Homo sapiens: one gene and its partners. The protein of the gene in region 7 interacts with the protein of the main gene of each other region in a biochemical or structural test. Each region holds a gene or a part of one and is shown on either strand. Other genes may lie near its edges. The genes, in order: GSK3B, TGFBR1, WWP2, ITCH, PIN1, RBL1 and SMAD3.

Region 1 (4,423 bases), on a different chromosome or scaffold from region 7:
AAGAAGCAATTAATAATTATGAGCATTATATTCAGATTTGTACTTACCTATACTAGAGGTATAATCAGTGGCTCCAAAGATCAACTCTGGTGCCCTATAGTACCGAGAACAGATATACGAAACATTGGGTTCTCCTCGGACCAGCTGCTTTGCACTAACAGAAAAAAAATAAAAATAAAAAGCAGAAATTCTTTAAATCTAAACCTTAAAGAACTTAGACTGCTATCCTTTCACAGTATCAAATGATTTTATAAGATTCACATCATTTGAATCATATATGAAAAAGAAAATGTAAACTGTAACTATCTCTAATAAAAGAAATTTACAATTTTATCACCTTGCTCTGCAAAAAAGAATAGCAATTTTTAAAGAAAGCGTTTGTCACCTAAGAAGGCACCAAAAGCAAAAAAGGATAAGTGTTGAATTTCTTCTGATCCTCTGTTCCCCAAATTCCACCTCTAAAATACAAAGAAGCAAGGGCAGAAAAGAGGTACCTCCCCCACCAAAAAGCATGACAATGGATTCTAAGAATGAATACTCCTCACCCAATGTATTTCTTTAAAAAGGGTGAGAAACTGGCCACTGTCTTGCATTTTGACTTCTGACTCACGGCGAATATTTCAAGGCTTATAGACTCAATCTATTTTTCCATATCTTGGTCAATTTATTAACCACATAAACATTTATTACCCAATAAATTATAAACAGGCCCTTCAACTTCAGGGCAGAAATGATTCACTGCCTATAAATTCTAACTCTGCTATAGTAAGTATAATTGCATGTTTTCTTATTCCAATTTTCCTACTAAAATACTTCATTGCATGTATTTTAAATATGAAGTATAATAAATTACAATTAATTTCTTTTGAGATGTCGCCCAAGATAATCCAAAGACAGAATAAAATAAACTGCTGTAGAAGCCAGCCATTCTGACATACATTAATAATAAAGATAAATAAAGGGACAAAATGCAACAAAATCAAAACAGTAAAACAGTAAGTGCCAAAAAAAAAAAGTAAAGGTACTGGAAAACCAGGGTAAAGACAGATGAAAGTAGTCACAAGGATTTCAATGACTGGGATTTCTTTTCTTCCATTTATTTCTAGTCAATGATGACTCTAACCTTAACTTCTTTTTCCTTCATCACTAGTTTTGAAGTTTGTTTTTTAACCCTCTCCCCAAGTACTGACATACAATAACCATTTCATAAATTAATAAATACTAATCCCTGTTTTTAGGCTGCATGAAAATTATGACATTTAGTTTTCAGCATAATTGATAGGAGACTGTTATATCTTCTAAAGGATGCTTTTTAATTAACAAGATAGATGCTAATTATGTTCAGAAAATTCATTACGAGACAAAACGTTAATACCCAAGCTTTGTAGCCTGAAGTTTTTTCACTACCTGATGGAGCTACAAAAACGGAGCAGCCTCTCTTACAGAGGAGACTGGTTTTAACTACTTCCCAATATTGTGATCACATCTAGCTTTTTGTTCCTAAATAGCCCAACTAGTTCTTTAGCTACTTTTTGGCCCCTTTTCATCTAGTAAAAAAATAAGAAGAAAGTAATAGTATTTTGTTCAAATTACCAATCTGATAATGTACAGTCCAAAGTGTTTCCCAAACTCCATCTGACCAAACCAATTTTGTTAAAAACAAAAAAATCAGAGGGTTTATAAAAATGAGCTATCAAACAAGCGAAATCCCTCTTCCAAATTTATCAGAATAAAGCTATTTTATGTCCCAAGAGAATGGGCTGTACCAAGTGTTTTGACACTATATGAGAACAGAAGCTCTTCTAACCTTGGTGTCTCAGTCTGTCCCTACCAAGTCAGTCACTCTCAATGGTGAAGACACCCCATTAACAATAAAACATATCTGATTTGGGCAGTTTTTCCTATAGACAAGTAGTAGTGCTTTGTTTCAAACACCAGGTAAGAGTTTTACTATCTTTCACCCTTTTTAAAAATAGTTCAGGGAACAGAGTCATGGCCTGCAAAGTGATAGGTCATCTGAAATTAGAAAACAGTAAAATGAGGACAGTCTGAAAGAGGACACATTGTGAGACTAAGAAAAATTAACTCATGACAGAACAGATTTACTTATTTTTTAAAGGATCTGTCTCAAGAGAAGCCTGTGGAAAACATATCCTATGTTAAACCCCAAATTTAAACTGTGAATTGATGTAAAAGTATTACAAAGGGATAGGAACACAGGTATTAACAAGTGTGGGGCAATATGTTATCTATAGAGCTATGGTGAAAAGAATCTGTAACAAGGGTGAAAAAATTAAATTGGAGAGAATCCAAATTATGTAAAGATGTCTTAGGGACCATGAGGAGAGAGATTAGGTGATTACACCAGTGAGGAAGTAGCGGGGTAACTGCCTGAGTTACATGGGAATGTAGGCTTGACTACATGTTAAAAGGTTAGATCAGAGAGGCACAAAGTACTGAAAACTGAAAATGGAAAGAATAAAGTTGTATTACAAATTCACAGTATATTACCAAGAAATGAGCTTTTAAAAGCAGAAAGTTTGATGAAATTTGCAGGAAAAAGGGTGGAATAAAAGGTTAAATTATAGAGGAAAATGAAGAAAACACTGCATTGTTTTTTATCTCATCCCTGAATTGAGGTTAATTGTGAAGTTAAAAAGATACACAGGAATGTATAATAATCAATATTTTGAAAAAATTTAGTTCTTACTGAAAAAGGAGTATATATACCTAATGTAAATTCAAACAATACTAAAATACAATCAATGAAAAAGTGAGTTTCCCAACTACATTATATTCCCAAAGATCCTTTCTCAGGCAATCAAATATTATGGATTACGTACCATTTCAGAAATAAGCCACACATGTACTTGTGTATATATGTGTGTGTGTACATATATATATATATAGTCACATTCTGTATGTTTTTAAAACATAAAAGGTGGCATACAATACATATACTCTTGATCTTGCTTTCTTCATTTAATGTTTCCTAGACATCATTCCCTTTCAGTTCACAGAGAGTTGCCTCATTCTTTTTCATGGTTGCATGTATTACTCTGCATGTACCGTAATTTATTTAGCCATTTTCCTACTAATGGATGCTTATAAACAATGCTATAATAAAAATCCCTATATATACACTGTATTGTAAATATGTATTCCTAAGGAAATAATTCCTAAAAGTTAAACTGTTAAATGAAGGAGTATATACATTTATAATTTTGACAGAAACTAACAAAACTACTCTCACAGCTGCACTAGTTTATACTTCTTGAATAAGAATTACTGTGTTTAGGCTGATATTGCAAAAGGAATATATTTAAAAGAAGATAGTAGGGGGAGGAGGGGAAAAGGGAAGGGGCAGGGAGAGGGACAGTAGCTTACCTTCCAAAGTCACAGAGTTTTAATACAGCAGTATCAGGATCCAACAAGAGGTTCTGCGGTTTAATATCCCGATGGCAGATTCCAAAGGAATGGATATAGGCTAAACTTCGGAACAGCTGATACATATACAACTGGAATAGATAGTAGAAATTAATTAAATACTTCCTATTCTAAACAAATCAGAATCCTTAAGCAGTCAATAAAGTAACAGATTCTCAGAAAAGAACAGGTGAAATGCTATGGATTACTGGCACTCAATCTTCCTTTCACAAGTTTTGTGTCACTTCTGTATTAATTAGCTATTTCTATATGAATTAGCTAAACTGTCATTAACCATATGTACTATTCGCTTCATTCTTTAATAACTCAAAAGAAGAAAATTTTACAATGTGCTTTATAACTTTTAATTTTACTAACATCTCACATTACAAGCCTGCTAAGATGGGCTTTTATTTAAAACACAAATGAAAAGCTCAGAGAGGCACCCCAAATCATGAATAATCAGTAACTTTGGGCCAGAAACCAGGTCTCCTGATTTTTAAGTTTATAGTTCTTTCTAGTAGAGCATGCTGCTGAATGTAAACGTATTTCCAAAGTGTGATCTTTAGAATATTCTTCTGAGATGTCAGCCTCCAAGGTGATTGATACAGTGGTCTAGGAAAACTCATGTGGACTGAGAAAATCTGTAATCACTGCTCTATCAAGACATCAATAACCCTGTTAGTAGCATCACCATTCTTCCTGTTAATATCCTTCAGAAAAAGTATAATTCAAAATGACATTCAAAAACAGATGCCTGACTATTGACATCATCTTTCAAAAGAGAAGACTTTCTCAGTTTTCTTACCAAAAAGATACACTGAGAAACTGGGTCTGCATGGAGTAAAGAATCAGACTCTTGACTGGAGGAGAGAGAAACTTCATGGACGAAGAGAGTATAATTTAAACCTTCTGTTTATCTCAAGGTCAGTGTTCTGATTCACTTTTAAACTTTTCTGGCTGTTTACCTTCTGACCTCTACCCCAAAGTTACACCA
Region 2 (4,423 bases), on a different chromosome or scaffold from region 7:
CTGAGTATCCTACCAGGGATCTCATTTCTCATTACTGCAGACCTTCGAGCAATTTCTCTTTCTCACTGACTCCTGACTGTTCAGCCTTTTCACTACACATTTAGTTTTGCCCCTTTTTTTGGGAGTGCGAGAAGTTCTCAGCCCTGACTTCCTGTGCTGGTTTAGTTCTTGAATTCTTTGTCTTCCAGAACTCTGCAACACTTAACAGTTTGTGTTGTCCATTTCTACTGCCTGTGCTGCTACTTAACTCTACTTGAATGCGTTATAGGTACCCAGAGGACAAGATTCATGCCATTTCTTTCTTTTGTGGCCTCAGAACTTAGCACTGTGTTTTATATTCTATTCCACATAAATGCTTGTTGATTTCTATTTGAGCATTCCTTTAATATTTATACTGTTTTATGTAAGTCCAGTTTATGCAATATTAACTTGTAATTCCGTATAAATAATCAGGAAAAGTTGTATGGCGTGTTGAAAGCAATTGGTTATTTGTCCTACCTTCACCAGCAGTTATGCAGAAAATGGGGCAATACCTACTTTTGCCTAATTCATGAGATTGTGAAGATCACATGAGAAAGTGGTATTTGAGTTTGAGGTTGCTATTCTGTGTTGTTGCTAAAGAGCAGGACTGATGTTCAATAAGCAGTTCCCACTGGGCCATGTGTGTTTTGGTTAAACATCCTTTCTGATTGGTTGGTACCCTTGTAGTGCCAGTTGTTAAATATTTTTAATATCATTTCTATAGGGAGGCATTAGTATTCAAAAAGGGAAATGATTAGTGTAAGCTGGAATGATTGGGGGAGGCTTCTTGGACACTTTAGGACTTACACTGACTTTGAAGGGTGGGTAGAATTCAGAGGGGGATTTGATGAGTGTGAAAGTTCTTTTGAAGTTGTGTCCCCAACTGTCCTGGGGCCTACTCCAAGGGAGGAAACAAGGCTTTTACTGACTGACTGGCAAGTTACTCTTCAGAGTTAGGTTCCTTATTCTGTACTGTGGAATTTGGATGTATTAACCTCTATCATTTTTTCCCCAATCCTAAAAGCTATAGTACATAGCTGGAAACAAAACATAAAAGTAATCAAAGTGGAATGAGTGAGGGAGAATAACATTATGGGATGCCCAGTAGGACTAGGCATTCAAATGGTGGAAGTCCTAAGTATATTATCACTTCAATTTACAGATGAAAAAACGACTCAGGTGAATTTCTTAGGGTGGCACAGGGGCAGAACAGAGACAGGAACTTTGATTTTCTGATTCCATATCTTGTGCCCTATATGGTGCTTTAAAATGTGAAGGACTTGGAGGTGGGAGTGGGACAGGGTTGGGATAGGTGGTTGGCATCCACGAAGGGATGAGTGACTTCCTTAAGTGAAGTAGGCCTTGAACTTCACAGAATTTATGAAAAGTGAATTCTAAAGGTGGAAGGGAGGGGGAATGATTAAAGCCTTAAAGTTCTCAAGGAAAAGGTCAATTTTTTTTTAATTGCTGATAAAAGGACCTGGTATATACTTATTGATTGAGAAAAGTAGGCCTATAGTAGTTTGGAAGATGGTCTTGAGTAAGTACAGTTAATTGAATTGGGGTGTAGTTAGAAGGCTTTGGTTTAGAATATTAGATGATCCGCTTTGTTGTTGAAATTAAGAGAGGAATTGACATAAAAATAATCAAGAGGAAGATAAATCTTGTTCCTGTGAGGAGGGCCGCTCATGTAGGGAAGACCCCTGTCAAAAGGTTCTAGGCCTTAGTTGAGCAGTTACAGGGACTCAACACCATTCTTGTAGTGTCATTTTATTGCACCAAATATGTTCATGTGTAATAAATGGAATTTTGAAAATGCCATTATCCTATGGATGGCCCTTCTGATGTGAGAACGTGTCTCTTCAAACCACAGAGCCCCTTGCAAATGTCGACACACCTCTTGCCTTTTGCAGTTCTTCCTTGGTCATGGCTTACGTAACACAGAGTTCTCTGAACAGATGGACTGTGGTTTGATATCATGTGATTGGGTCACATCTTTGCTTCCTGCTTTTGGAATTGAGGGCAGATGCTGGCATATTTCTCAGGGATTTTTTAATGCTTTGTCCCATAGAACTAGCTTGAGGAAAAGTTTTGGAGTCTTCTCAGAATTTATGGTCAGTTTTGACCCAGCCTAACTCCAATACTTAGGATTACATTTAATGCCATTCTTAGCTGAATTTTCTCAATGTCAAATCCAGGCAGTCTCCATAAACATTAAAATTGTTTACCACTCTGAATTAGATCCAATTTTATGTGTTTTGTTTGCTTTCCAGGTAAGTTTCTTATGGCTACCCTTCTTCATCATGAAGAAAATTGGTTGGTAGACTTGTAATTATTCATCTCAGACATCACTTTCTTAAATACTAGTGGACTAAGTTCAGTTGGTTTTATGGTCCAATTTTATAGATCAGATCAAGTCTTTTATAAAGCTGCTCCCTCAAAGAACAATTTCTAATCTAACTTAAAAAAAATTGACTTGCAAAGTATACACACAGGTTGCTTTGAAATTTCTTGAAGGGTTGCAAGAATATGCTACATATTCTATCTGTCTTGTCTCGTTTAATTCTCTCTTCTCTCTTTTTTTTTCTTTGACCATGGCTAATACGGCATCATTTAGTTCTCATAACCAACCTTGAATGGTAGTTGTATAGAGTACCAAAACTTCTTACTTATTTGCTGCTTAATTTCCAAACTCTTAAGCCCATTTGTTCCCAGATACAGGTGACCAGTGCTCAGAAGATAACTGTAGGTTTTGATAACATCGGCTCTACCCCAAGATTCTTTTCAACTCTAAACATTATCCAAAGGTGTTAGTATTTTTTCATCGTCTAATCGTAAATATATATATAAAAGAAAGACACTGCTTTGAATGGCACAGATGTAGACTAACAGTAGTTCAGCCACTGAGACTCAAATGATTTTGTATTACCATAAACCCCATCTGCCTGGGCAGGCAGAATTGACACAATTTTGCTCAGATTGGAACCTAGTTCATATCTATGAAAGAAGACCCTCTTTGTTTCCATTTTATAGACCAGGAAACTGAAGTTATGCTGTTAATGAAAGGTGGAGCCTTCAGTTAAGCACTCCAGGGTATGTACTCTTTTCCTATACAAATGCTCCTCTACTTATGATGGGGTCACGTACGTCCATGCTCCTTTCATATAGAGTAAATACATTGTTAGAGCCACTTCAGCAGGAAAGTTTCCTTTCCCTTTTTTGCAAACCATGAGAATTTGCTTCAGATTGCCTTGATTACAGTTTTACTATTTCTTTGCAACTGCAGGCCATTCAGATACTAACAGTCTTTCTTTAACATTATATTTTTAGGTAATTTGAATCTTCCTGACGAGTCCAGTGATAGTTGATCACTTACTATTTGTATTGATTTATACATATATTCATAGCAAATTCTTTTCTTCTAAAAGTTACATAAGCACAGGACTGAAAATTTGTATTAGAGAAAGGAAAAAAACCATCACCAGCCATTATTAACATTTGGCATATCCTGCACCCATGCTTTTTTTTTTTTTTTTTTTTTTTTTTTTTTGAGTATAAAAAACCATTCTTGGGCTGGGCACAGTAGCTCACACCTGTAATCCCAGCACTTTGGGAGGCCGAAGTGGGCGAATCACGAGGTCAGGAGTTCGAGACCAGCCTGGCCAACATGATGAAACCCTGTCTCTACTAAAAATAACAAAAAATTAGCTGGACGTAGTGGCAGGCACCTGTAATCCCAGCTGCTTGGGAGGCTGAGGCAGGAGAATCACTTGAACTCAGGAGGTGGAGTTTGCAGTGAGCCGAGATTGCGCCACTGCACTCCAGCCCGGGCGACAGAGTGAAACTCCATCTCAACAAAAACAAACAAACAAAAAAACAGCAACAAACCATTCTTTAATCATTCTATTTCAGCAGTTTATGAAAGCTAATAAAAGTGTTTAAATTGACAAACAGCTTCAGTTTACAGAGGAAAGAGCTTCAGTTTACAGAGGAAATAGCTCATCTATTCTTAGCAAATATTTAGTAGTGATCAACATGATGAGAAATATAGGAAAAGTAAGAGGCAGTCTTGCTTTTGAAAAAATTGATGCTGAGGAAATATGACTACAGACTCAGTACTAGCAACCACAGGGACTGCTTTACAGAGGAGGTAGGACTTGATCTCTCTGCCTTGCAGGAGGATAGGGCTTTGAGTGGATGTGTGGTGGAAAGGAGGCACTTCTTGGCTGGAGAGGATGGCATGTGTGGAGAAAGAGCATTCTAAGTTTCAGGATTTCTAAGAGGAGAAATGGAAGTTCATGGTGTAAAGGGTGGGCTCAGAGAATTATGGGCCTTGAAAATCAGGAGAGTGGTTTTAATGTGGAAAAAGAATGTCTAATTGTGCCGCAGAGGGAATGGATCA
Region 3 (4,423 bases), on a different chromosome or scaffold from region 7:
ATTTTGAAGACTTAGCATGAAGAAAAGTAAAATGTCTCATTGATACTTTTTATGTTATAGTAAACGATCATATAATGTATAAACATGTATGATAACATTTTGGATTTATTGGGTTAAATACAACGTAATTATAAATAGTTGGTCAGACATGGTGGCTCATGCCTATAATTCCAGCACTTTGGGAGGTCAAGGTGGATAGATTGCTTGAGCCCAGGAATTTGGGACCAGCCTGGGCAACATGGTGAAACCCTGTCTCTACAAAAAATACAAAAATTAGCCAGGTGCAGTGGCGCCCGCCTGGCTACTCAGGAGGCTGAGGTGGGAGGATCACCCAAGCCTGGGGAGGTGGAGGCTGCAGTGAGTTGTGATCGTGCCACTCATTGCACTCTAGCCTAGGTGACAGAGTGAGACCCTGTCTCAAAAAAAAGAAAAAGAAAAAGAAAAAAAGTTTCACCTTTTTGTCTTTTTTTTTCCCACTTAACCTTGACTTGAAACCCAGCACTTTTTTCTTTTTAAAATGTATTTCCTAGAAAAATAAAAAATTATAAATGTGGCTTGCACTTGTGGCTCCCATCTTATTTCTATTGGACAAACCTGTTCTGAATGCCAGGAATATAGCAGTACAAGAAAGGTAAGGATCCCCACCCTTGTGGATCTTCAATTTTATTAGAGAAGGGCACATTGATAACTAAGTATAATATGTATTATGTTGTAATAAAGCAGGGAAGAGGGATGTAGGTTGCAGTTTAAATAGGATCCTGGCCAGGTGCGGTGGCTCACGCCTGTAATTCCAGAACTTTTGGAGGCTGAGACGGGCGGATCACTTGAGGTCAGGATTTCAAGACCAGCCTGACCAACATGGTGAAACCCCATCTCTACCCAAAATACAAAAATTAGCTGGGCTTGTTGGCACATGTGTCTAATTCCAGCTACTCGGGAGGCTGAGGCACGAGAATTGCTTGAGCTCGGGAGATGGAGGTTGCAGTGAACCAAGATCGCGCCACTGCACTCCAGCCTAGGTGATGAAGTGAGACTCCGTCTTGCTTTTGGAGAGATGGGGAGTTGGGGGCGGGGGTTCTCACTTTTGCCCAGGCTGGTCTTGAACACTTGGCCTCAAGACATCCTCCTGCCTCAGCCTCCGAAAGTGCTGAGATTACAGGCATGAACCATTGCACCTGGCTCAGTCTCTTAACTCTAAATACTATCCACATGCTAACAGCTTCCATATGTGTGTCTAGCCTAGGCCTGTCTCGAGACTTCTAGATCTAATTGCCCACAATATCTTCACGTGGATTCCTATCAGGCATTTTATAATCAACATCAACAAAATTGAGCCCTACACCTGCCCCTCAGACAGCCTTCCCCATCTCAGTTAATGACAACTCCATTCCTCCAGTTGTTCAAGCCAAAGACCTTGGAGTCACCCTTGACTCGTCTCTTCCTCTCACACCCCACATCCAACTCAGCTCGTCCACAAAGCCTACTGGCTGTACTTCAGAGTACACCCTGGATGCATCTTTCCCCTGGATGATGGCAACAGCCTCCTAACTTGTCTCCCTCTTCCACCCTGGCTGGCCTTCACTTTCTCCACACAGGACCCAGGGCAAGTCTGTTAAAAGGCAGGGTGGATCCTGTCCACTCCACTGCCCAACTCAAACCCTCCAATTGTCCCAGCTTAACTGGAGTGAAAACCAATACCCTACAATGGCCTGCAAGCCTTCCATGACCTGATCTCTCCTCCCACACCCACCACCACCCTGACCTCCTCTCTCCACTCCTGCTTACTCAATCCCCTCCAGCCACACTGGCCTCCTGACTGGTCCCAAAACCTGCCAGTGGTACTCCTTATTTGGGGCTTTTGAACTCTGCCTGGACCCTTAAGCCCCTATTCAGCCACATGGCCCCTTCCTTCCCTCACTTCCTCAGATCTTTACTCAACCATCACCTTCAGAGAGAGGCTTTTCTAGGGATCCTATATTTTACTTTATTATTTTTGGAGTGTTGTTCTGTTGCCCAGGCTGGAGTGCAATGGTACGATCTTGGCTCACTGCAACCTTCACCTCCCAGGTTCAAGTGACTCTCCTGCCTCAGCCTCCTGAGTAGCTGGGATTACAGGCATCTGCCACTATGTCCAACTAATTTTTGTATTTTTAGTAGAGATGGGGTTTCACCAGGTTGGTCAGGCTAGCCTCAAAATCCTGACCTCAAGTGATCTGCCTGCCTCGGCCTCCCAAAGTACTGGAATAGGGGTTTTGTTTTTTTTTTTTTTAATCTTTTTGAAAACCACAAGCTAATGGGTTTCTTTTTTCTTAATGAGGCTACTCTTCCAACTGTGCATCTTTATAGCACCCCTGAAATCAATTTGAGTGCCAATTTCTGGAATTAGTCTGGCTTCCTGGGTTGGCATCCAGTTTAGGCCTCCAGGATGGATGGATAATGGGCTTTTTATGTTTGAAATATGTATTGGTTTTTTCAAACATGTATTGAATGCATGTTGTTTGTCAGGCATCCCACCATTTTATACATTTAACCTTGTTGAGGTGAAGTGACCCTCACGAGGTCAGATAGCTAAGAAATGAAAGAGATGGCCATTTGAATCTTGGTCTTCAGAGTCCACATCTGGTCCTTCTACCACTTATCATTAGTGAGATGGGTGGAGTGGCTATATAAACATAAACTCCCTTTGGAATCAAATCAGTGAGTTGCTTTTGAGCGACTTTGAGTCCCTTAGGACTATTATGTGTCACAGGCAGAAAGGGAATTTACCAGGTAAAGAAAGGCAGATTTATTAAAGTGAAAACACGTTGCAAGAAAGCAATGGGCAGCACAGCAGAGAAGGGGCTGTCTGCAAAGAGGCAGGAGATGGAGGGAAGTTTTACAGGGTTGTGCTGGAGGGGGCTATGTGGGGATTGATGCATCTGAGGGCTGTTTGTGATTAATCATTTCTCAGAACGACTGTCCATGGCTTTCCCCTACCTGAGGCCCCTTCCTCGTTGTTGCTTACTTATCTTATTAGGACTCCACATTATGGACTCTGAAATTTCTTTTCTTTCTTCTTTATTTGTTTTGCTTTTGAGACAAGGTCTCATTCTGTCACCCAGGCTGAAGTACAGTGGCATGATCATGGCTCACTGCAGCCTCAACCTTTTGAGCTCAAGTGATCCTCCCATCTTAGCCTTCCAAGTAGCTGAGACTATAGGCATGTGCCACCATGCCTAGCTAATTTTTAACTTTTTTGTAGAGATGGGGTCCCACTATGTTACTCAGACTGGTCTTGAACTCCGGGCTCAAGTGATCCTCCTGCCTCAGCCTCCCAAAGTGTTTGGGGTTACAGGTGTGAGCCACCACAACTGGCTAGGGCTCTGGAATTTCTGAAAGATGGGAACAAAAGGGAAGATGTTTCCCCTGGATGATGGGACAGGTTAGATTCTAACCAAAATCTTTTTAGAAGGTTGCAGTTCCCTGTTTTTCACCCCACCGCAGTTTATAGCAAATATTCAGTGATTTAAATCATTACTACTAATAATAACTATTAGGAAAATACCAGCCAGGCATGGTGGCTCACACCTATAATCCCAGCACTTTAGGAGGCCGAGGTGGGTAGATCACCTGAAGTCAGGAGTTTAAGACCAGCCTGGCCAACATGGAGAAACCCCGTCTCTACTAAAAATACAAAAAATTAGCTAGGCGTGGTGGCAGACACCTGTAATCCCAGCTACTTGGGAGCCTGAGGCAGGAGAATCGCTTGAACCCAGGAGGCGGAGGTTGCAGTGAGCCGAGATTGCATCACTGCCCTCTAGCCTGGGCAACAAGAGCGAAACTCCTTCTCAAAAATAATTAAATAAATAAAAAATAACAAGTACCAAGACATGGCAGTCCTGACCTAGGGCCCGTCCTCTTCCTCAAGTCACCCATGCCTTTTGCTTCTTGTTTTGTCTTCAGATCTGCTTTCCAGTCAGCCTCTTTTATTCTTAGCCTGTAATTCCACGGGGCTTCCAATAGTGTACCTCCCTGCTCCCTCCCGTTTTCTCTTTTTCCGTGCTTAGTCTTTGTAAGGATGTCATTTGGCAAAGTTGATTCTGTTTGATTGTTTTTCAATATGGGCCTTTGGAGAATGGAAGGTAGTAACTCAATGCTGGACAGAGGAAGGAGGCCAAGAAAGAAGCATTAGTGTTGGAGTAGCATGAGCCTGTGAAGAACAGGAGAATCTTTTGGACAGAGCTTTTCCTTGCATATCTTTCAAGAAATGAGTGCAGGCTGGGCGCAGTGGCTCACGCCTGTAATCCCAGCACTTTGGGAGGCCAAGGCGGGTGGATCATGAGGTCAGGAGATCGAGACCATCCTGGCTAACGTGATGAAACCCATCTCTACTAAAAATACAAAAAACTAGTCAGGCGTGGTGACAGGCACCTGTAATCCCCGC
Region 4 (4,423 bases), on a different chromosome or scaffold from region 7:
CACTTGATATTATCTGCTAATTTAATAACTAAAACAGTACCTTTTCAGGGTATATTTCCTTCAGATTACTAACAAGGTTAAGTATTTTTCCATGTTTGTTACTGACTTTCCTCTGGATTAAAAAATATTTTTTCTTCAATTATTTTATATGATTTTTTTTTTTTGACGGAGTCTTGATCTGTCGCCAGGCTGGAGTACAGTGGCACAATCTCAGCTCACTGCACCTCCACCTCCCAGGTTCAAGTCATTCTCCTGCCTCAGCCTCCGGAGTAGCTGGGACTACAGGCGCGCCACAACACCCAGCTAATTTTTGTATTTTTAGTAGAGACGGGGTTTCAACATGTTGGCTAGGATGGTCTCGATCTCTTGACCTCATGATCCCCCCACCTCAGCCTCCCAAGGTGCTGGGATTACAGGCGCGAGCCACCGTGCCTGGACTGTAATGTTAATGTTAATGTTAAAGGCTTAACACCATGTATTAATATATCCTTAACTTCCCCAATTAATTTGAAATGATTTTGCTATTATAGTTTTTTAAATATAATAAGAACTTCATTTTAATATATGACTGGGCTCTAATTCTTATTCATTTAAATAATTACTCTTGAAGAAACTAATACTTAAACTACAGTATTAGTAAACAGGTAAACAGCTTAGACAAGAAAAGTTAAGGAAATTTTTTTTTTTTTTTTGAGACAGAGTCTTGCTCTGTCGCCCAGGCTGGAGTGCAGTGGCGAGATCTCGGCTCACTGCAAGCTCCGCCTCCTGGGTTCATGCCATTCTCCTGCCTCAGCCTCCCAAGTAGCTGGGACTATAGGTGCCCGCCACCATGCCTGGCTTTTTTTTTTTTGTATTTTTAGTAGAAACGGGGTTTCACCACGTTAGCCAGGATGGTCTCAATCTCCTGAGCTCGTGATCCTCCCACCTCGCCCTCCCAAAGTGCTGGGATTACAGGCGTGAGCCACTGCGCCCAGCCCACCTAAGGAATCTTTAGGTCAGAAATGAGTGAAAATAGGGCCAGGCATGATAGCTCACGCCTGTAATCCCAGCACTTTGGGAGGCCAACGCGGGAGGATGGCTTGAGCTCAGGAGTTAAAAACCAGCCTGGGCGACATAGCGAGATGTTGTTTCTATAAAATAAAGAAAAGAAGAAAGAAATATGCGTGAAAACAAAAATTGTTTATCAGGCTCTGAATTAATCAGTTGTCTAGCTCTCTTCTTTTTAATTTGTACTTACCACAAAACAAAGTGGACAGAGAAAGGGCTGACAAGAAAAAGTAAAACAGAAATGTAGGGAAGATTATACAGTTGTAATCCACAATTCTGACTAAATAAAATTATTCTTTTTAAATTTAGATACTTACCCAGGAGGTAGAGGTTCTGGTCTATCCCATGTTGTTCTTTTCTCAACATGATCTACATAGTAAACTCGCCCGTGCTGGTCCACTCTCTGCTCCCAACTTAAATACAAAATTAAAAGGCTGGTAAAATACTTGCATGAGTTACCTGGCTTTTTAATCCTGTCTTTGCATTTCCATTAAATGACCATTATTGAACTAAGGCAAATAAGGACATCAGTTTAGAAAGATGATACAAATACAATTTAGGAATAAAGTGAAGAAATGTAATCTTCAGGCAGTGGCACACAGTGAATTCAATTTCTTCTATGCAAGTATCTGCTCTAGGAGAAAACATATTCCTGAAGAGGCTTGAGGTCCGTCTACCTAGGATACCGAAGTCACTCTCAATCAGGGTATAATCAGGATTTGAGTGGAAAGAAATGGCCAGGCGCAGTGGCTCTCACCTGTAATCCCAACACTTTGGGAGGCTGAGACGGGTGGATTACTTGAGGTCAGGAGTTCAAGACCAGCCTGGCCAACATGGTGAAACCCCGTTTCTACTGAAAATTCAAAAATTAGCTGGGCATGATGGTGGGCACCTGTAGTCCCAACTACTCAGGAGGCTGAGGCAGGAGAATCACTTTAACCTGGGAGGCAGTGGTTGCAGTAAGCCAAGATTGCATCATTGCACTCCAGCCTGGACAATAGAGTGAGACTCCATCTCAAAAAAAAAAAATTAGCTGGGCATGGTGGCAGGTACCTGTAATCCCAGCTACTCAGGATGCTAAGGCAAGAGAATCACTTGAACCCGGAAGACGGAGGTTACAGAGAGCTAAGATCCCACCACTGCACTACAGCTTGGGCAACAGAGCAAGATTTCATCTCAAACAAACAAACAAAAAATAAACAAGAAAAAATTACACCTGAGTATCTTAAAAACAATCTATGAAAATAATCTTAAAATAATCAGGAGAGATTAAAATGGGATTATGAGCACAAATTTTCTCAGTTTTCTGAATTATCTATCACTTTGCTATGATTTTTCTTTTTTCCCCAAGATGGAGTTTTGCTCTTGTTGCCCAGGCTGGAGTGCAGTGGCAAGATCTTGGCTCAATGCAACCTCTGCCTCCCAGGTTCAAGCAATTCTCCTGCCTCAGCCTCCCGAGTAGCTGGGATTACAGGCGCCTGCCACCACACCCAGCTAATTTTTTGTATTTTTAGTAGAGATGGGGTTTCAGCATGTTGGCCAGGCTGGTCTCGAACTCCTGACCTCAGGTGATCAGCCCGCCTCGGCCTCCCAAAATGCTGGTATTACAGGCGTGAGCCACCATGCCCAGCCTATAATGATCTTCTGATGAAAAAAATAGTTTGATATTAAAAAGGGATTTTTTCCCCCTTAAAGAAAAAGGCAATTGGAATTAGGTGATTATTTTATTAATTGGCCTTGGTTAACTTTCAGGGTCCTTTGATGAAAAAATATATTTTTCCACTTTGCCCTGAAGATTTCAAATATGGTGTGTTTTCCTTGTTCATTTTGACTCCAGATCCCCCAAAATCAGTTACAATAACATAAAAACAGTTGGCTGGGTGCTCATGCCTGTAATCCCAGCACTTTCAGAGGTTGAGGTGGTCGGATCACTTGAGGTCAGGAGTTCGAGACCAGCCTGGCCAACATGGTGAAATCCCCTACTAAAAATACAAAAATTAGCCGGGCTTGGTAGTGCACACCTGTAATCCTAGCTACTAGGGAGGCTAAGGCAGGAGAATTACTTGAACCCAGGGGGCGGAGGTCGCAGTGAGCCAAGATCACACCACTGCACTCCAGTCTGGGAGACAGAGCACTCCATCTCAAAAAAAAAAGAAATTAAAAAACAGTCATCAAAACAATGGAGTTTACTGTTGTTTACTGTTATTTTCCTTATTAATAAGTAGGCTTATGAAGAATCCTAAAGACAACATATGTTAATTTAAAAAGTTACTCACCCAGGTGGCAAGGGAGCTTGAGTTACAGGATTTAATGGCCTAGGGCCTGAGCCTCCAGATATAGTAAGAGGAATTATTAATCCAGATGTTGCTCCTTCAGATGTATTTGTATTTGTATTTGTCGGCGGCAGAGAGCCTGTACTAGACCCATCACTTTCAGAAGTGGCAGATGGTGAACCATTGACAGATGCTATAAAAGATTTGGGGAAAATAGGAAAAGAATCTTTCATTTTCTAAAATTCAGGATAGAATTTTAACTGTAAAAAATAAAAGGCAGATGATAAATATAAAACTTAAGATGTAGATGCACAGGTGAAAATTACTTAAAGAAATAAGTAATGGGAAATAACCAACGCTGCCAGTTAATAGGCTTGTTTACTTTTTCGGTCCTGTCTACCCCTATGTCCCATTACTAATCACGAAGCATGTACAGGTTCTCTGATCTTCTGATGTCACTGGAAATAAAAACTTTTAGAATAGGAAATTATTAATATTCCTTGGTATTTTAAGTTCATTTATTAATTTTCCAGCTCCTTAAAACTGCTTTCCTGTGAAACCGTGCAGATTACAGACCAATTTTTGATGTTGGTTATAATATGGAAGGTCTGATAAGAAATAACATTCTTACAGATAGTTAGTAGTCATACATTACACCTTTAAGAAATACTTGTGGACAAAACAATGTCTAGAGGAAGTCACCAAGATTATAATAAAGACATCTTAAAGACTCAGAATATACAATTAATCAAATTATCTATAAAAGGGGAAGATGTGGCTGCAGTGGCTTACGCCCGTAACTCCCACACTTTGGGAGGCCGAGGCAGAAGGATCACTTTCAGCTCAGGAGCTCCAGACCAGCCTGCGCAACATGGCAAAACTCCATCTCTACAAAAAATATAAATATTTAGCCAGGCATTGGTGGCTCATGACTGTGGTACCAGCTACTCGGGAGGCTGAGGCTAGACAATCACTTGAGCCTGGGAAGTAGAGGTGGCAGTGAGCTGAGATGTCACCACATTCCAGTCTGGGTGACAGAGTGAGACCCTGTCTCAAAAAATAAAAAAATAAAAAGGAGAAGATGTATAATTGAATAGAAATTC
Region 5 (4,423 bases), on a different chromosome or scaffold from region 7:
CCAGCCCTGTACGAGCCCAGGGTGGGCCACGCTGTTCTGCCCTGACCCTCCCCCAGACATCCCACCCTTGCCCACCTAATCCATCACCCAGTCCTCTCTATCCTGCCTCCTGAATCTCTCTCGGGTCTGCTCCCTCTCACTTCTTCTTCCACTTCCAGCCCCCAAGTTCAAGTCACACCGCCTCTTGCTCCAATTCCTCCCACAGCTTCCACCAGGTGGGCAGGCAAGGCTCCTGCTGACATTCCAGAATCTGCAGGTACCTACGGTGACGCCTCAGGGCCTGGCTACTTACCAGGTGCACCTGTCCAACCCAGAGATGGGCGAGACACCCTCGCCCACCACACCCAGACCCATGCCCTCCTCACTATCCCCACCGACCTCAGCCTTCTGCCAGCTCTCATCAGGATTGCTTGGAGCAGCTCTGTCCTGCGCCTGGCTGCTCTGCTGACCCCCAGGAGCCCACTTCATGCCGCTCCATCCCCAAATGCCTGCACCCTCCTGCTCACTCTTATAGGGTCCGGAAGCCTCAGAACAGAGACCACTAGAGCTGGGAGGACCTGAAGGGTCATCTTGCAATTCTCTCCTGGCTTCTCCCTCCACTTCTTCTTCTTGCTCTGGGGCAACCAGAACCCCTGAAGGTTCTGGGCCTTCCACTTCCCTGGCCCTTGACATTCTAGCTTCACAGATCTCTGCTGAAAGCAGAGCACTGTGGGTTCCTCTCCTGGTCCCACATGGCCACATATGTCCTGCTGCCTCCAGGAAAGAACCAAACCTCCTCACCTGACAAGGACCCTCCTCAACCTGGCTGGGACCTGCCCGTGAAGGGTCTCATCACCCCCTAGCTCCCTGCAAAGCCTTCCCCAGAGTTCTGGCTACATCCTAGTCCTAGGCCTTTACTTCTGCCCCGTCCTGTGCCAGGAATCCTTCTTGCTTCCTACTGGCTCATGAAACAAGGCTGTGAGGGCTGACTCTGGGCCAGGCTTTGTGTGGCAGGATGGGAATACAGGGGAAAGAGAGAGATCCAGTCCCTGCCCTCAGAGGTCAGGAGGCTGGCTCTTCAATCAGCCTTCAAGATTCTGTGCAAGAACTCGGCTTCTCTCTGCCATGCTTACATATAAGACTAACGGGTGGCACTTACTGTCCTAGATGCCATGTTGGGGGTGTGCATATGTAATAACATCCTACAGGCCAACTGGACCAAGTGATGAGAGAGTAAAACAACAGCCAATACTGACCGAGTGTACACTCTGTGCTGGGCCCTGTGCTACCACAACCAACAACAGCAATGACAGTGACCACTAACAATGACAGAACATTTACCGATGCCAGGAGCTGTTACTCCCGCTTTACTGTATTAGCCAGGAGTCCTCACAACTACCCTGTGAAGTGGGTCTTATTATTCTAATACTAATTTTATAAATGAAAAAGACTGACAGCTGGGGGCGGTGGTTCATGCTTGTCATCCCAACACTTCGGGAGGCTGAGGTGGAAGGATCACTTGAGGCCAGGAGTTTGAGACCATCCTAGGCAACATGGTGAAGTCCTGTCTCTACTAAAAATACAAAAATCAGCCAGGTGTGGTGTTATGAGCCTGCAGTCCCAGCTACTTGGGAGGCTGAGGTGGGAGGATCACCTGATCCCAAGGAGGTTGAGGCTGCAGTGAGCTATGAACACTGCACTCCAGCCTGGGTGACAGAGCAAGACCCTGTCTCAAAAGAAGAAGGAGAAAAAGATTGAAGCCCAGAGATGTTAAGTAACTTGCTCAAGAGCACATAGCCAGGACGTGGCAGAGCTGCATAGCAACCCAGGCTGTCTGGGCATGGTTGAGAGATGGGTTGTTTGGAGTAGGGACAGCCCAGGTTTGGGGACTCTGAGAAAGGCATCAGACACAACTTACTGCAAGAATGGAAAAGTGTTTTTTTTTGTTTTTGTTTTTGTTTTTTTGAGACGGAGTCTCGCTCTGTTGCCGAGGCTGGAGTGCAGTGGCACGATCTCAGCTCACTGCAAGCTCCACCTCCCGGGTTCATGCCATTCTCCTGCCTATCTCCCGAGTAGCTGGGACTACAGGTGCCCGCCACCATGCCAGACTAATTTTTTTGGATTTTCAGTAAAGACAGGGTTTCACCGTGTTAGCCAGGATGGTCTCGATCTCCTGACTTCGTGATCCACCCACCTTGGCCTCCCAAAGTGCTGGAATTACAGACGTGAGCCACCGCGCCCGGCCAAGAATGTAAATGTTTTATATTCCCGCTGTCAAAGATGGCAGCCACCAGCTAAAGTATGACCAGTGCAATTGAGAAACCAATTTTTGATATTATCTTATTTATTTTTGAGACAGGGTCTTGCTCTGTCACCCAGGCTGGAGTGCGGTAGTGTGATCTCGGCTCATTACAACCTCTGCCTCCTGGGCTCAAAGGATCCTCCCACCTCAGTCTTCTAAGTAGCTGACACTACAGGCGTGCACCACCATGTCCAGCTAATTTTTTTATTTTTTTAGAGACGGGGTTTTGCTATGTTGCCCAAGCTGGTCTCAAACTCCTGGGCTCAAGTGATCCTCCCGCACAGGGTGGGAGTGGCAGCCAAACTGGACAGCTTTAGACAGGGCTCTGCAAATGATGGCCTGCAGGCCAAATCCTCCCAGATTTTGTAAATAGTAAAGTTTTCTTGGCACACAGCCATGACCATGTGCTTGCTTACATATTAGTTATGAGTGCTATCCAGTTACAAAGCAGAGCTGATAGAGACTGCATGGCCCACAAAACCTAAAATATTTACCATCTGGCCTTTAAAGTTTGCCACCTTGGTGCCAGACTGCAGAGGAAACACAGAACAGAGCAGGGAATAGCTTCCTCCCTTAGGTCAGAATTAACTCACTATCTACTGGCACTCACTACCTCTTTTTTTTTTTTTTTTTTGAGATGGTGCCTCACTTTGCTGCCCAGGCTGGAGTGGAGTGGTGCGATCTCGGCTCACTGCAACCTCTGCCTCCCTGCCTCAGCCTCCCGAGTAGCTGGGATTACAGGCATGCGTCAACACATCTGGCTAATCTTTGTATTTTTAGTAGAGATGGAGTTTCACCATACTGCCCAGGCTAATCTTGAACTCCTGACCTCAGGTGATCTGCCCTCCAAGGCCTCCCAAAGTGCTGGGATTACAGGCGTGAGCCACCGCACCCTGCATGCACTCACTACCTTCCTGACTGCTCTCTCTGGATCCACCTATGTTTATGACTCAGGCCCCTAGTGGATGATATTACTATTGACAACACTTCCCACAGACTGAGGGCCTACTGTGCAAAATCCATTGCCTTATTCCCTTGAACCTTCACAATGGTCCTTAGAGGATGCCCATTTTACAGAGAAAGCTGAGTCTAGGGGAGGTGACACGAGTCCCCTCCCAAAGGTCACAGAGTTCACAGAGGCACAGCTACTACCTGAACCCATGTCTGCCAGCCCCCAGGCTGGGTCCTCTGCCCCTACCTGGCTCACCCTCAAATGCCAGATGGAAAAGAAAGAGAATGGCTGCTGTGAAGGTCAGGGTCAGGTCATGCACTGGCGTTTTTGTGTTGGCCAACACCACGCCTGGCAGCTGAGCAAGCTGGGGTGAAGGGTCTGATGTGACTTCTACAAAGGCTCACCTGGGAGAAGACCCCCTCCCAAGCCCCTGCCCTCGCCCTGCTCACCGTTGATCAGCTCCAGGGCCTCCTCCTTGGTCCGGGTGATCTTCTCCTGCCGCCAGGACGAGGGCCGCCGTGACTGGCTGTGCTTCACCAGCAGGTGCGAGCAGCGGACCCTGGCAGGCTCCCCCTGCCCGTTTTTGCCACCACTGCTGCTGTTGCCGCTGGGCCGCTCCCACTGGCTGGCGTTAGTGATGTGGTTGAAGTAGTACACTCGGCCTGGAGGGGAGGGCAGGCAGGAATTCAGCTAGGGTTGTGCTCCCAGGACACCCCTGGGCCCACAGCCAGAAGCCAGGGTGAGGGCCTGGCTTGCAGGGGGCGCCTTCATTCAACAAATCCATGGTGTATCCACCATGTGCCACAGGCTCTCCAGACGTGGGCCAATGTGGCAGGATACAGTCCCTGCCCTTAGAGAGCTAACATTCTAGGTGAGAGCAGACAGGTGCTAAACAAGCAAATGAAACACAGGATAGTATCAATCCCTGATAACTTCAAGGAGGAAAATAACCCAGAGTGATGGAACAGAGGAAGCTGGGGGACAGGGAGTGACTCAAACCATGCACTCAGCAGCCAGGCCACCTGGATTCAAATCTGAATCTGGGTTCAAATGTGATATATCTTCCCTGGGCCTTGGTGTTCTCACCTGCAAAATGGAGATAACAGTTCCTACCTTAGGGTCATTGAAAGGACTAAATAATAATTTTTAAACATTTTTAAAAGGGCTAAGCACGGTGGCTCTCACCTGTA
Region 6 (4,423 bases), on a different chromosome or scaffold from region 7:
TGGCGCAATCTCGGCTCGCTATAAGCGCCGCCTCCTGGGTTCACGCCATACTCCCACCTCAGCCTCTCGAGTAGCTGGGACTACAGGCGCCCACCTGGCTAATTTTGTTTTTGTATTTTTAGTAGAGATGAGGTTTCACTGTGTTAGCCAGGATGGTCTCGATCTCCTGACCTTGTGATCCACCCGGCTTGGTCTCCCAAAGTGCTGGGACTACAGGCGTGAGCCACCGCGCCCAGCCTTGTTTTTTTAATTTGAAATGGAGTCTTGCTCTGTCGCCCAGGCTGGAGTGCAGTGGCGCTATCTCAGCTCACTGCAACCTCCACCTCCAAGGTTCAAGTGATTCTCCTGCCATGTACTGCTCTACATTTGTTTTGTTATAATTCTTTTTTGTTTAGTTCCCCCAGAATCTGTCATTACAAAGATTTTTGAAATTATATGAACAATGACAAACATTGACAGAAAAAGATCAGATTGTTTTATACTAACAATGATAATGTCTTGCTCAATTAAAAAATTAACCCCATTGATCTTCATTTAATTTTTATCATCTTATTTTATTTTTAGAACCAAAGTTGTTTAAAAACATTTTTTTTAGGCTGGACACGGTGGCTTACGTCTATAGTCCCAGCACTTAGGGAGGCCGAGGCGGGTGGATCACCTGAGGTCAGGAGTTTGAAACCATCCTGGCCAACATGGTGAAACCCTCTCCCTATTAAAAATATAAAAAATTAGCCAGGCGTGGTGGCGGGCGCCTGTAATCCCAGCTACTGGGGAGGCTGAGATCAGGCCATTGCACTCCAGCCGGGGCAACAAGAGCAAAACTCCGTCTCAAAAAATAAAAATAAAAAAAAATTTAAATTTAGCATCAACTAAAACCTATTTGCCATTTCTGAATAGGGCTTTAAACTTTGCTCCTCTTCTATTCTGGAAACACAGGAATAGCAAATAGACAATGACCACAAATAGTTTTGTCCCAGAAACAAAGAATATTAGCATGAATCCAAACTGGATAGCTAAATTTGTTTTGTTTCCTATCCAGCCAAATAATTCTATATGCTTGATACTAGAGTAAGTAAAAGATGTATCTGAGACCCATAGAGTAGCTGCAAGGTGAAAAAAATTAATATACAGTAGAGAAATAGGACAACATCTTGACCAGATGACAAAAATTAACATCACCAATGAGATGCAGATGGATAACACATGCCATCATCAGATGTGATATCCTCAGGAGACAAAATCACTTATACAGTTTTCCATCAGGGAATGACTAACCTGCATCTAATCAAAAGTTAATAGGAGACAAATCCAAAATTGGGAACCATCTATTAAAAGAGGGGATGAGGGTGGGCACAGTGGCTCACGCCTGTAATCCCAGCACTTTGGGAGGCTGAGGCAGGCGGATCACAAGGTCAGGAGTTTGAGACCAGCCTGGCTAATATGGTGAATCCACATCTCTACGAAAAATACAAAAATTAGCTGGGCGTGGTGGCACATGCCTGTAGTCCCAGCTACTCAGGAGGCTGAGGCAGGAGAATCGCTTGAACCCGGGAGGCGGAGGTTGCAACGAGTCCAGATTGCACCACTGCACTCCACCTGGGCAACAGAGTGAGACTCTGTCCCAAAAAAAAAAAAGGCTGAGGCAAGAGGACCACTTAAGGTCAGGACTTTGAGACAAGCTTGAGCAACATAGTAAGACCCTGTCTCTATAAAAAGATTTAAAAATATCAGTCAGGCATGGTGGCACATGATTGTAGTCTCAGCTACTTGGGAGGCTGAAGCAGGAGGATCATTTGAGCTGAGGAGTTTGAGGCTGCAGTGAGCTAAAAAGGTGCCACTGCACTCGAGGCCTGGGCAATACAGCAAGACTCGGCCTCTAAAAAAATTTTTTTTAATTAAAGAAAGGGACAAAGTGATTGTGGATTATATTCTTCAAAAATGGTAATGTCATAAAAGAAAAAGAAAGGCTGTGGAAATGTTCCTAATTACAGAAGAATAAATAGACATGATAAGCAAATGCAATACCTGATCCTTAATTAGAAATTGTACTTCCAGGAAAAAAAATGCCATAAAGAACATTATTGAATCAACTAACAAAACTAGAACAGAGTTAGCAGGTTAAATAAAATTATTTTATCAGTGTTAATTTTGCTGAAGTTGGTAGCTGTACTGTAGTTATTTAAAGAAATACACAGTGAAGTATTTTGGGGTAAAAGGCTACAAATGTATGCTACTTAGACTGAAATGGTTGAGGATAAAAAGAGAAAGATCTGGCTGGGAGTGCTGGCTCACGCCTGTAATCCCAGCATTTAGGGAGGCTGAGGCGGGTGGATCACCTGAGGTCGGGAGTTCGAGACCAGCCTGACCAAACATGGAGTAACTCCGTCTCTACTAAAAATACAAAATTAGCCAGGCGTGGTGGCACATGCCTGTAATCCCAGCTACTCGGGAGGCTGAGGCAGGAGAATCGCTTGAACCCAGGAGGCAGAGGTTGTGGTGAGCTGAGATTGCACCACTGCACTCTAGCCTGGGCAACAAGAGCAAAACTCCATCTCAAAAAAAAAAAAAAAAGAGAGAGAGAGAAAGATCTATATATTGAAGAAAGAAAAATCAAATGAGAAAGCAAATGGGATAAAATGTCAATAACAGGTGACTCTGAGTCAAGGGTATATGGGTATTGTCCTTTTCTTATTTTTGTAACTTCTCTGTAAGCCTAAAATTATTTCCAAATTTTAAAAAATTAATTTTAAAAAGTATAGCTAAAGATTCAACACAGAGGTTTCTAGCAGAATTTGAGAAAGGCAGAGAAAGAATATGAAAATTGGGAAAGGATTATCTATGTTATAACTTAGAATTAAATGAAGTCACACAGTGGCTCACGTCTATAATCCCATAGCACTTTGGGAGGTTGAGGTGGGTAGATCATTTGAGGTCAGGAGTTCGAGAACAGCCTGACCAACATGATGAAACCCCATCTCTACTAAAAAAAAAAAATACAAAAAATTAGCCGGGCTTGGTGGTGTGTGTCTGTAATCCCAGATACTCAGGAGGCTGAGGCATGAGAATCACTTGAACCCAGGAGGCAGAGATTGCAGTAAGCCAAGACTGTGCCACTGCACTCCAGCCTGGCTGGCACAGTGAGACTGCGTCTCAAAAATAAATAAATAAATAAATAAATAAAATAAAAATTAAATGAAGTCAAATGATCTCAAAACAAGAGAAAACTGATTCCAAAATTTAGAGCTTATATAACATTTAAAAACATCAAAGAGGTTTACCTTAATTTAGCTGAACGTAGTATTCTGGTAAGTGAAACACAGTTGCCTTCCATGATACCCTTTCCAACCGTGGGAATAATGCTTTTGCGGCATGCAACATATAATGAACATGCCAACCAGTGTGTAACTTCTCCCTGGCAAGCAAAAGACAAACAGCAAAACAGGTATAATATTATGTTAAAATGCTTTAATTCTAGAAACAAGAGATGTAGAATTATCTGGTCTCAATTTTCCTTATGTAGATAAAGGGCCAGAGAAGTGAAGATATTTGCCCAAGGTCACAAAGCTGTTAGTTGCAGTAATGGGTATAAAACTCCTTACTCTTAGTTCTGTGTTTTTACAACTATAACATGCTAAATTAATATTAATCTAAAGATAAAAGCCTGGCTTGGTGGCTCATGTTTGTAATCCCAGTAACTCGGGAGGCTGAGGTGCGAGTATCACTTGATGCCAGGAGTTTAAGACTAGCCAGGGCAACGTAGACTCTAAAAATGAAAATAAAAAAATTAGCCAGGCATGGTGGTGCTTGCCTGCAGTCCCAGCTACTTGGGTGGCTGAGGCAAGAGTATCGCTTAAGCTCAGGAGTTCAAGACTGCAGTGAGCTATGTTTGTGCCACTACATTCCAACATAGGCAGCTGAGCGAGATCCTGTCTCTTAAATCCTGTCTCTTAAAAAAAAAAAAAAGAAAAAAACTCTTTCACCTACACTCCAAATCTAATACAGGCATATGCCACATAACATCTTGGTCAACACTGGACCACATATACAATGGTGGTCACTTAAGATTATAATACTTGCCAGGCGCGGTGGCTCATGCCTGGGAGGCTGGAGCGGGTGAATCACTTGAGGCCAGGGGTTCAAGACCAGCCTGGCCAACATGGCAAAACTCCGTCTCTACTAAAAATGCAAAAAATTAGCTGGGTGTGGTGGCATGCACCTGTAGTCCCACCTACTTGGGAGGCTGAGGCAGGAGAATAGCTTAAACTCGGGAGGCAGAGGTTGCAGTGAGTAGAGATCGTGCCACTACAGTCTAGCCTGGGCAACACAGGGACACTCTGTCACACACACAAAAAAGATTGTAATACTGTATGTTCTAACTGTTCTATATATTTAAAAAATTATAATTTACTGTACCCCTTTTATG
Region 7 (3,500 bases):
CTCAGGAGGCTGAGGCAGGAGAATCACTTGAACCTGGGAGGGGGAGGTTGCAGTGAGCCAAGATTGTGCCACTGCACTCCAGCCTGGGCGACAGAGCAAGACTCCGTTTCAAATCATCATCATCATCATCATCATCATCATCATCATCATCATCACAGAAACCTACAATTACACACAATGAAAGTGTCCTGAACGAAAATAACAAGGAACCCCAAGAGTGTATGACCATGGCACCCCACTTTGCTGAAGGACTGGACAGGGCATCTCAGAGGAGGTGATGGTTGACCTGAAGGCCTAAAGGGTAAGTAAGAACTAACCAGGCAAAGGGGTGCGGGAGAAGGGCAGTACAAGCAGAGGGAAAGGCACACACAAAGGCCCTGTGGAAAGTGGAAAACATGGTGAGGTCGGAAGAACAGAATGAAGGCCAGAAGGACTGGAGAGGGGATCATGAGAGAGAGCTGGCTTGAGACGAGGCCGGGGAGGCAGGCAGGGGTACTCTGCAGGGCCCCAAAGGCCATGATAAAGGCTTCTCCTGTTTTCTAAAAGCAGTATGTAGCCTCTGAGATGTGTAAGTGGGCTGTGCATACGTGTGAAAGAGACAGGCCCTGTGGAACTCTGGCTACGTGTGACCAACAGATTGCGGGTAGCAGGGATAGAAGTGGGGAGCAGATGAGATGGATGCTCATGAGTCACAGGTACCCTATTAAGAGGCAGGACTGCTTTTTCTTCAAGGAGGCCCATCCTAGGACCCTGCCAGTCAGTGCCATAATTTTTCTAATAGCTGGCAGGGCTGGCAGTGAGACATTTGCAAGCTTTCCCTCTGTGCCTTCTTATGACCGAGGGCACCCATTTGCCTGAATACAGAGAATTCATGGGCACTCTGTGAAGGAAGGGCTGGCCAGATGCCACCAACAGCACCAACCAAAGAGAGAAACAGAGGGATCCAATCACACTCTCCAAGCCACTGGCCTGGGAAGGGGAAAGGACAGACAAAGGTCATAGCTGGGCTTGGTCACAGGAACTGACCTGGAGCTGCTGACTAAGGGCATCTTGAAGGATGTAATTACCTTCCTCCCTTGGGGCCCCAGAACAAGGAAGCCCTACAGCTGAAAAACAGTAATTACCAGGCAGATCGAGAAGACAGCCTGGGACTCGTCCCTGAGGTATAAAAGGAGGACTGGCGGATGTGGAGCCATAAGACCTGGGGTAAAGGAGGGTTCTACTCTCCTAGCTGGGAGACACTGGGCAGCTCATGAGCTTCCTAGGACACTCAGTTTTCTCATCTATAAAATGGGGTATTCTGCCCCCCGACCTCCTGAAGCTTGGTTTCCATTTGAAAGTGCTTCATAAACACCCACAAATTAGCGTTATTATTCTCTATCACAGCAGATACTCCCCAAACCCAGCCCTGGATAAGTAGGGTGAGCTGGAGGTTGAACAGGAGTAAAAGGGAGAGTGGGAAGTGGTGAGTGGGAATAGAGAATTATTCAGCTGTTCTCCTTCTCCTGCAAAGCCACTGGGTGCCCACAGATTAGGGAAGTGGCCGTATTTGCTCTTCGGTGTTTGACAAAACTCCCAAAAAAGGGCCAGCTGGACATCATAGCCTCCTCTGCAAGAGAAGGCCTTGGAGAAAAGCTCATGCCAGCAGCGGGGGAGAATGGGGCTGTGGAGGTAAGCTCCATCTAGGTGATAGAAGTGGGTGGCCCTCTTGCCTTAGTAGTAATATTAATCATACATGAATCACTTGGATATTAATTAAACTTTTAAAAACAAGGGAGCTACAATAATCAAGGCAGTATGGTAATGGCACAAGGACTGACAAACGGATCAATGGAACCTAACAGAGTCCAGAAATAGTTACATATATATGGACGACTGGCTTCAACAAAGGTCCAAAGACAATTTAGTGGAGCAAGGACAGTCTTCAACAAATGGTGATGTAACAACTGGATATGTAAAAAAGATAATCTTCAAACTACACATTGTAACCCTATACAAAAACAAACTGAAGTGAAACTTAAACTCTAAAATGTCTAGAAGAAAACAGGAGAAAATCTTTGTGACTTTTTGGGATAGACAATGATTTCTCAGATACCACACCAAAAAGCACTTAATAATAATAAAAAAAAAATCAGACCGCATCAAGATTTAAGCCTCTGGTCTTTGAAAGACACTGTTAAAGGAATAAAAAGGCAAGCACTAACTAAGAGAAAATATTTGCAAAGCGTATATTTGATAATAGACCTGTTTCTAGAACTCTGAAAACTCAATATTAACAATTCAATCTTCTTTTTTTTTTTTTTTTTTTTTTTTTTTTTTTTTTTTTTTTTTGAGATGGAGTCTCGCTCTGTCGCCCAGGCTGGAGTGCAGTGGCACAACCTTGGCTTACTGCAAGCTCCACCTCCTGGGGTCACGCCATTCTCCTGCCTCAGCCTCCCGAGCAACTGGGACTACAGGCGCCTGGCACCGCGCCCGGCTAATTTTTCGTATTTTTAGTAGAGACGGGGTTTCATGTGTTAACCAGGATGGTCTCGAACTCCTGACCTCGTGATCCGCCTGCCTCGGCCTCCCAAAGTACTGGGATTACAGGCGTGAGCCACTGCGCCCAGCCAACAATTCAATCTTTTAAAAAAGAGATACATGATTTGAACAGACACTACCCAGAAAGATATGAAGACAACAAGCATATGAAAAGATGCTTGACAATGTTGATCATTAGAGAAGCACAAATTAAAACTACAATGAGATAGGACTACATACTTATTAGAATGGCTACAATTAAAAAGCCTGATCATGCCATGTATTGGCAAGGATGTGGAACAACTGGAACTCCCTTCCACTGCTGGTGCAAATGTAAAATGGTACAACTATTTTGGAAAACAGCTTGGAAGTTCCTTTCTAAAATATTTTATTTTGGGGGATACACAGTAGCTATACATATTTATAGGGTACTTGCGATATTTTGATACAAGCATACAATGTGTAATGATCAAATCTGGGTAATTGGGATATTCATCCCTCAAACATTTGGAAGTTTCTTAAAAAGCTAAAAAACCATAAGCCTACCATATGATCCACCATTCCACTTCAAAGTATTTACCCAAGAGAAATAAAAGCCTATGTCCAAAGACTTGTGCATGAATGTAATAGCCCCAAATTGAAAACTACTCCACATGTATTAACAGATGAATGAGCCATAACATATCCATACAAAGAAATACAACTCAGTAACAAAAAAGGATCAACTACTGATACATGCAACGCTATGAATGAATCTAAATTAATGATGCTGCGTGAAAGAAGCCAGGCATGATTCTGTTCGTGTAAAATTATAAGGTAATTTAAACTAAAGTAAAAGGCACACTAATCTTAATCTAGTGACAGAAAGCAGGGATCAGTCATTGCCTGGGGACAGAGGGAGTTACAGGGAGGGAGTAGGGATTGGAGGGAGCAATTACCAAGGTGCACTTGGAAACTTTTTTGGGGGTAAAGGTTATGTA

What was found.
Region 1: the proteins of SMAD3 (region 7) and GSK3B form a complex in vitro, tested with the Homo sapiens proteins (one study listed by BioGRID).
Region 2: the proteins of SMAD3 (region 7) and TGFBR1 form a complex in vitro, tested with the Homo sapiens proteins (2 studies listed by BioGRID, with this or other methods).
Region 3: of the proteins of SMAD3 (region 7) and WWP2, one has a biochemical effect on the other in vitro, tested with the Homo sapiens proteins (2 studies listed by BioGRID).
Region 4: the proteins of SMAD3 (region 7) and ITCH form a complex in vitro, tested with the Homo sapiens proteins (2 studies listed by BioGRID and IntAct, with this or other methods).
Region 5: the proteins of SMAD3 (region 7) and PIN1 form a complex in vitro, tested with the Homo sapiens proteins (2 studies listed by BioGRID, with this or other methods).
Region 6: the proteins of SMAD3 (region 7) and RBL1 form a complex in vitro, tested with the Homo sapiens proteins (one study listed by BioGRID).

What each region holds. Positions count from the first base shown.
Region 1 is NC_000003.12:119,912,657-119,917,079, forward strand, and holds part of GSK3B (glycogen synthase kinase-3 beta), read right to left. Parts: intron 3,519-4,423; coding exon 3,388-3,518; intron 155-3,387; coding exon 48-154; intron 1-47. UniProt on the Homo sapiens protein: Constitutively active protein kinase that acts as a negative regulator in the hormonal control of glucose homeostasis, Wnt signaling and regulation of transcription factors and microtubules, by phosphorylating and inactivating glycogen synthase (GYS1 or GYS2), EIF2B, CTNNB1/beta-catenin, APC, AXIN1, DPYSL2/CRMP2, JUN, NFATC1/NFATC, MAPT/TAU and MACF1.
Region 2 is NC_000009.12:99,107,755-99,112,177, forward strand, and holds part of TGFBR1 (TGF-beta receptor type-1 isoform 1 precursor), read left to right. Parts: intron 1-3,054; exon of another isoform or gene 3,055-3,114; intron 3,115-3,572; exon of another isoform or gene 3,573-4,423. UniProt on the Homo sapiens protein: Transmembrane serine/threonine kinase forming with the TGF-beta type II serine/threonine kinase receptor, TGFBR2, the non-promiscuous receptor for the TGF-beta cytokines TGFB1, TGFB2 and TGFB3.
Region 3 is NC_000016.10:69,764,782-69,769,204, forward strand, and holds part of WWP2 (NEDD4-like E3 ubiquitin-protein ligase WWP2), read left to right. Parts: intron 1-4,423. UniProt on the Homo sapiens protein: E3 ubiquitin-protein ligase which accepts ubiquitin from an E2 ubiquitin-conjugating enzyme in the form of a thioester and then directly transfers the ubiquitin to targeted substrates.
Region 4 is NC_000020.11:34,439,245-34,443,667, reverse strand, and holds part of ITCH (E3 ubiquitin-protein ligase Itchy homolog), read right to left. Parts: intron 3,514-4,423; coding exon 3,324-3,513; intron 1,461-3,323; coding exon 1,365-1,460; intron 1-1,364. UniProt on the Homo sapiens protein: Acts as an Acts as an E3 ubiquitin-protein ligase which accepts ubiquitin from an E2 ubiquitin-conjugating enzyme in the form of a thioester and then directly transfers the ubiquitin to targeted substrates.
Region 5 is NC_000019.10:9,837,908-9,842,330, reverse strand, and holds part of PIN1 (peptidyl-prolyl cis-trans isomerase NIMA-interacting 1), read right to left. Parts: intron 4,320-4,423; coding exon of another isoform or gene 4,256-4,319; intron 3,896-4,255; coding exon 3,683-3,895; intron 1-3,682. UniProt on the Homo sapiens protein: Peptidyl-prolyl cis/trans isomerase (PPIase) that binds to and isomerizes specific phosphorylated Ser/Thr-Pro (pSer/Thr-Pro) motifs.
Region 6 is NC_000020.11:37,085,711-37,090,133, forward strand, and holds part of RBL1 (retinoblastoma-like protein 1), read right to left. Parts: intron 3,413-4,423; coding exon 3,279-3,412; intron 1-3,278. UniProt on the Homo sapiens protein: Key regulator of entry into cell division. Directly involved in heterochromatin formation by maintaining overall chromatin structure and, in particular, that of constitutive heterochromatin by stabilizing histone methylation.
Region 7 is NC_000015.10:67,159,602-67,163,101, reverse strand, and holds part of SMAD3 (mothers against decapentaplegic homolog 3), read right to left. Parts: intron 1-3,500. UniProt on the Homo sapiens protein: Receptor-regulated SMAD (R-SMAD) that is an intracellular signal transducer and transcriptional modulator activated by TGF-beta (transforming growth factor) and activin type 1 receptor kinases.